2 linked regions of the Homo sapiens genome follow. The protein of the gene in region 1 purifies or fractionates together with the protein of each later gene. This does not show direct contact. Each region holds a gene or a part of one and is shown in the gene's direction. Other genes may lie near its edges.

What was found. Proteins that work in one complex are often made in the same cells at the same time.
Region 2: the proteins of DDX23 (region 1) and TXNL4A purify together in Homo sapiens (affinity purification with mass spectrometry; 3 studies listed by BioGRID and IntAct, with this or other methods). This does not show direct contact.

What each region holds. Positions count from the first base shown.
Region 1 is NC_000012.12:48,838,664-48,842,163, reverse strand, and holds part of DDX23 (probable ATP-dependent RNA helicase DDX23), read left to right. Parts: intron 1-2,057; coding exon 2,058-2,151; intron 2,152-2,254; coding exon 2,255-2,320; intron 2,321-3,500. UniProt on the Homo sapiens protein: Involved in pre-mRNA splicing and its phosphorylated form (by SRPK2) is required for spliceosomal B complex formation.
Region 2 is NC_000018.10:79,978,564-79,982,063, reverse strand, and holds part of TXNL4A (thioredoxin-like protein 4A), read left to right. Parts: intron 1-3,500. UniProt on the Homo sapiens protein: Plays a role in pre-mRNA splicing as component of the U5 snRNP and U4/U6-U5 tri-snRNP complexes that are involved in spliceosome assembly, and as component of the precatalytic spliceosome (spliceosome B complex).

The sequences.
Region 1 (3,500 bases):
CGGACGGGGTGGCTGCCGGGCGGAGACGCTCCTCACTTCCCAGACGGGGTGGCTGCCAGGCGGAGGGGCTCCTCACTTCTCAGACGATGTGGCTGCCGGGCGGAGGGGCTCCTCACTTCTCAGACGGGGCGGTTGTCAGGCAGAGGGTCTCCTCACTTCTCAGACGGGGCGGCCGGGCAGAGACGCTCCTCACATCCCAGACGGGGCGGCAGGGCAGAGGCGCTCCCCACATCTCAGACGATGGGCGGCCTGGCAGAGACGCTCCTCACTTCCTAGATGGGATGGCGGCCGGGCAGAGGCTGCAATCTCGGCACTTTGGGGGGCCAAGGCAGGCAGCTGGGAGGTGGAGGTTGTAGCGAGCCAAGATCACGCCACTGCACTCCAGCCTGGGCACCATTGAGCACTGAGTGAACGCGACTCCGTGTGCCATCCCGGCACCTCGGGAGGCCGAGGCTGGCGGATCACTCGCGGTCAGGAGCTGGAGACCAGCCCGGCCAACACAGCGAAACCCCGTCTCCACCAAAAAAATACGAAAACCAGTCAGGCGTGGCGGCGCACGCCTGCAATCGCAGGCACTCGGCAGGCTGAGGCACGAGAATCAGGCAGGGAGGTTGCAGTGAGCCGAGATGGCAGCAGTACGGTCCAGCTTTGGCTCAGCATCAGAGGGAGACCATGGAAAGAGAGGGAGAGGGAGACCGTGGGGAGAGGGGAGAGGGGAGAGGGAGCCTGAAGCTTTTCTATCTATGGATTCTTCTCTGAATCTTTGGGGGTTTTTTTGAGATGGAGTTTTTGTTCTGTTGCCCAGGCTGGAGTGCAATGGCACGATCTCGGCTCACTGCAACCTCTGCCTCTTGGGTTCAGGCAATTTTCCTGCCTCAGCCTCCCAAGTAGCTGGGAATACAGGCATGCGCCACCATGCCTGGCTAATTTTTGTATTTTTAGTAGAGACAGGGTTTCTCCATGTTGGCCAGGCTGGTCTCGAACTCTTGACCTTAGGTGATCCGGCCACCTCGGCCTCTCAAAGTGCTGGGATTACAGGCGTGAGCCATTGTGCCTGGCCTGTATACAGAGTTCTTATCAGGCCCTGAAAGTATAGGTTAGAATTCAAGGCAGAGGACAGAATGCTCCTAACAGAAACTCAGTGGGGTTGTTTGAATTATCTTGTAGATTAAGCTTAGAGCAGGTATGGGGAAAGGATTGTTGGGATTGATAGGAATGAAAAATGATGAGGGAATATAGATAGCAGTATCTTCTTGGCTTGTGGTGGTGGCCATGTAGGCTAAATTCATTGTATATTAAAGAGTTAAGGAGGGCCAGGCGCTGTGGCTCACACCTGTAATCCTAGCACTTTGGGTGGCCGAGGTGGATGTATCACCTGAGGTCAAGAGTTCGAGACCAGCCTGGCCAACATGATGAAACCTCGTCTCTACTAAAAATATAAAAATTAGCCAGTGGTGGCAGTACTCGCCTGTAGTCCCAGCTACTCAGGAGGCTGAGGCAGGAAAATTTCTTGAACCCAGGAGGCGGAGGTTGCAGTGAGCTGAGATCACACCATTGCACTCCAGCCTGGGCGACAGAGTGAGACTGTGTCTCAAAAAAAAAAAAAAAAAAAATTTTTCTCTAAACAACCACACCTGGCTAATTTTTGTGTTTTTACTAGAGACAGGGTTTTGCCATGTTGGCCAGGCTGGTCTTGAACTCCTGACCTCAGGTAACCCACCTGTCTTAGCCTCCCAAAGTGCTGGGATTATAGGCATGAGACACCGCGCCTGGCCTAGGGGAAATATTTTTGACATCAGTAGTAAAGTCCCACTTCCCAAAAGAGATTAGTCTCAAAAGGAGATTTGGGTAGAAAGGGGCCAAGACAGGGCCATAATTAGGTTTCAGAGCTGGCAGAATGACCATGCCTGCTAAGAGAGTTTCAAGACATGATAGATGACCATGGGCCAGTCTTGTTGAGTCATGGGGAAACTTCCATTCTCTTTTCGGGGCTCAACTTGAACCTCATCCAGGCACTGAAGTAAGAGTGATGTGGACCTTGTTCCTTTTCCTCAAAGCTTATCTCCTGGTCGAGGAAAAGACTTTAAATCTCGGAAGGACAGAGACTCTAAGAAGGATGAAGAGGATGAACATGGTGATAAGAAGCCTAAGGTAAAGGAGAGGAAGGATATTTTTCATCTTCAACTCGTGCGTTGCTTTGTTGATCTTTAAAGGGAGAGAGCCTTTATAGACTAAAGTTCTGTTTTATCTTCAGGCCCAGCCATTATCCCTGGAGGAGCTTCTGGCCAAGAAAAAGGCTGAGGAAGAAGCTGAGGCTAAGGTAAGTACTTGAGGGTCTTCATTCATCGGCTCAGGCTGCCATAACACAATACCACAGACTGGGTGACTTCAACGACAGAAGTTAATTTTCTCACAGTTCTGGAGGCTGGAAGTCTGAGAGCGGAGTGTCAGCAGGGTTATTTCTTCTGAGGTCTCTCTCCTTGGCTTATAAGGCTGTCTTCTTCCTCAGCTCTTCACATGGTCCTCCCTCTGTACACATGTACCCCTTGTGTTGGATTAGGGCTCACCCTAAAAGGCCCTTTTTTTTTTTTTTTTTTTTTTTTTTGAGACAGAGTCTCACTCTGTCGCCCAGGATGGAGTACAGTGGCATGATATCGGCTCACTTCAACCTCCACCTCCCAGGCTGAAGCAATCCTCCCACCTCAGCCTCCCAAGTATCTGGGACTACAGGTGCGTGCCACAACGTCCAGCTAATTTTTGTATTTTTTGTAGAGTCCAGATTTCACCACGTTGTCCAGGCTGGTCTCGAACCCCTGGGCTCAAGTGATCTGCCCTCCTTGGCCTCACAAAGTGCTGGGATTACAGGCGTGAGCCACTGTGCCCAGCCTAATGGGCTCATTTTAACTTAATCACCTCTTTACATGTCCTGTCTCCACATATAGTCAAATTCTGAGGTACTAGGAGTTAGGGCTTCCACATAGGAATTTTGAGCTGGGTACAGTGGCTCACACCTGTAATCCCAATACTTTGGAAGGCCAAGATGGGAGGATCACTTGAGCCAGGGATTTTTAGACCAGCCTAGGCAACATGGTGAAAACCCATCTCTATAAAATTTTAAAAATTAGCCATCTGTGGTAGCATGCGCCTGTAGTCCCAGCTACTCAGGAGGCTGAGGCAAGGATATTGCTTGAGCCCAGGAGGTTGAAGCTGCAGTGAGCCATGATGACACCACTGTACTGCAGCTTGGGCAACAGAGCGAGAGTCTGTCTCAAAAAATATATATAACACATGCATTGTTTGTTTGTTTGTTTGAGATGGAGTCTCGCCCCGTTGCCCAGGCTGGAGTGCAGTGGCATGATCTCGGCTCACTGCAACCTCTGCCTCCCAGGTTCAAGCAATTCTCCTGCCTCAGCCTCCTGAGTAGCTGGGATTACAGGCACGTGCCACCATGCCTGGCTAATTTTTTGTATTTTTTTAGTAGAGATAGGGTTTCACTGTGC
Region 2 (3,500 bases), on another chromosome or scaffold:
AGTTCAGGCTTTGGAGCCAGACAGAGTGCATCTCAGCTCTGCCCCTTCCCCGTGCGGCTGGGCATCACTCACGTGACCTTTCTGAGCCTGAATTCCATCACCTAAAACATCGGCGACATCTATTTAGAGGTGTTGAAAGAATTAGAATCCATGAGTGAAAAGTGCCTCATACATGGTGGATTCTCAAGTGTTCATGAAACTGGTCTGTGGTGAAATCAGAGGATGTTCACGTTCTCGTGGCACGTGAGCTTTATGTGGTAGTTTGCCTCTGTTAGAATTCTCCGGGTTAGATGCAGTGGGCCGGAGCTTGAAGGCAAAAGGAGAGTCACATTTGTATCTTTAAAGTTACAGTTACTCAGTTGCCCTCTGATTATTGTTGTTGTTGTTAGTTTGAGAAGGAGTCTCGCTTTGTCCTTCAGGCTGGAGTGCAGTGGCACGGTCTCAGCTCACTGCAATCTCCACATCCTGGGTTCAGGTGATTCTCCTGCCTCAGCCTCCCAAGTAGCTGGGATTACAGGCGTGCACCGCCACACCCAGCTAATTTTTGTGTTTTTAGTAGAGACAGGGTTGCACCACGTTGGCCAGGTTGGTCTCGAACTCCTGACCTCAAGTGATCCGCCCGCCTCAGCCTCCCAAAGTGCTGGGATTACAGGCGTGAGCCACCTCACCTGGCCCTGCACTCTGTTTATTAAATGCCTACAAATTATTAAAAACCACAGATGCTTATAATATTTACTATTTTTTACGTGCAAGAAAAGGGATGGTAAAAATTTGTTGTGACCTTTCTTTTTTCTTAAGTACACAATTTACAACCCTGTCCAAATGATATTTCAAGTAATTTATTATTTGCATGGTGATTCCGTAAGTTAATATGATGTTACTGGTATTTATTGTATCTGTCCCTGAGCAAGGCATTGAAGGGAGAATAATGAAATATTATTTTGACTTTCCTAATGCCTGTGACCATTTATTTTGTTGGTGTATTTATTTTAGCTTCTGTAGGGAAGTATTTTGTGTTTAAGTCAAATCAAAAGACAGTTTATTAGTTTACCATGAAAATAAAGCTGGATTCTGGCAACCTGACCAACACATTCTCACTGTGGACGCTGCGGGAAACTAGAGTTTCAGAAATGGGCGTTGTCAGAGTGACCGGACTCAGAGGGGCCCATGTCTAATGCAAACATCACTTTGGGGTTTTGAAAGCACATGGACGGGGAGTCGCATGCCCCTGCAGTGGGCCGTGTGCTCACTTTGGGGTTTTGAAAGCACATGGATGGCGAGTTGCATGCTCCTGCAGTGGGCCGTGTGCTCACCTTGGGGTTTTGAAAGCACATGGATGGCGAGGCGCACGCTCCTGCAGTGGGCCCTGTGCTGGAGTTCTGATACGGTTTTTTTCACCAAAGCTGAAGGGCAGTGGAGTCTTTGTGAAGTGTGGGCTTTCCCCCTCCCCCTCTCCCCACCCTGCTCCATGGTTTACATTTCCATCTTAATTTTTAAAAAATATTTCCCAAAGTAGAGAATATAGTGAACCCGTCTGTTCCTATTGTTCCACTTCAACAATTGCTGGTATTTTGCTGGTCTTGTGTTACCTAACCCCTCATTTTTTTAGGCTGTGTGTTTCATGGAAATCCCAGATATAATTATTTCACCTGTAAGTTACAGTCAGGTTGTAAAGATTTAGTTTTATATGAAGAAATGTTGTGCATATCCCATTGATTTCCCGTGACTGCTGTGAGAGGATGCTGCAAGCTGAGGGGCTTAAAACAACAGAAACTTCTCTCACAATTCTGGATACCAGAAGTCCAGAATCGAGGTGTTTTCCAGGCTGGGCTCTCTCTGAAACCTGCCAAGGAGAGTCCTCATGCTTCTCCCAGCTTCTGGTGCTGCCAGCAGCCTCTTGGAGCTCCTAGGCTTGTAGACGCCTCTGCAGTCCTCGATGCCCCCAGAGCCTCCTGTCCCTGTGTCTTTATGTGGCCATTTTCCTCTAAGGACACCAGTCACACCAGATTAGGGGCCCACCTACTCCAGTATGACCTCATCTTACCTTAACTGATTACGCCTGCAGTACCGTTTCCAAATAAGCTGCGCTGTCACTTTGGGGGTTTAGGACTTCAACTGTTTTGGGGACACAGTTTAACTCATAACACATGTAAGTGGCTACAAGCTTCTAAAGGGCATTGAGTTAGTATTTATAAAGAGCCTTTAAAATGTCATATCCTTTGTTCCAGAATTTTAGGAATTTGTCTTTAGGAAATAATGAAGTATGTATACAAATTTAAGGGGGAAAATGTTCACAGATGAATAATATTAATGAACAATCAGAGAGTAACAGAAGAATGGTGTAGGAGGCTCTTCTCGCATTGCTATAAAGAAATACATGAGACCGGGTAACTTATGAGAAAAGAAGTTTAATTGGCTCACAGTTCTGCAGGCTGTACAGGAAGTGTGGTACTGGCATTTGCTTCTGGGGAGGCCTCAGGACCTTCCAATCATGGCAGAAGGCAAAGGGGAACAGGCACGTCGCACGGTGAAAGCTGGGGCGGAGTGTCACACACTTGGAACAACCTCAGCTCACTACCCCGAGGACAGCACCAAGAGGATGACGCTCAACCATTGATGAGAAATTCATCCCATGATCCAGTCGCCTCCCACCAGGCCTCACCTGCAACGCTGGGAGTTACGTTTCAACCTGAGATTTGGGCAGGGACAAATATCCAAACTATATCAAATGGTAAAGTAATGGCATAGCCATTTGATGAATCACGCAGCCATAGAAGTTTGCCATTTTTGGAAAGTAGGTAATGTATGTAAAAGAATGCTCTTAATTGGCCGGCGCTGTGGCTCACGCCTGTAATCCCAGCACTTTGGGAGGCCGAGGTGGGTGGATCACCTGAGGTCAGGAGTTCGAGATCAGCCTGGCCAATATGGTGAAACCTCGTCTCTACTAAAAATACAAAAATTAGCCAGACGTGGTGGCACACACCTGTAATCCCAGCTACACGAGAGTTTGAGGCTGGAGAATAGCTTGAACCTGGGAGGTGGAGGTTGCAGTGAGCCAAGATCATGCAACTGCACTCCAGACCAGGCGACAGATCGAGACTCCGTCTCAAAAAAAAGAAAAAAAAAAGAATGCTCAAAATTAAAGCAGCATACAAAATATTGTAGTACGATCACAATATGACCATATTTTGCTATGTCTGAACAGAAATAATATGAACAAATTAAAAAATATATATCTATAAGAAAGGGGAAAGAATATAGTAAAAATATTGCCAGGCGTGGTGGCTCATGCCTGTAATCGCAGCACTTTGGGAGGCCAAGGCAGGCGTATCACTTGAGTCCAGGAGTTCAAGACTAGCCTGGGCAACATGGCAAAACCCTGTCTCTACAAAAAATACAAAAATTAGCCAGGTGTGATGGTACGTGCCTGTAGTCCCGGCTGCTTGGGAGGCGGAGATGGGAGGATCGCTTGAGCCCAGGAGGCAGAGGTTGCAGTGAGC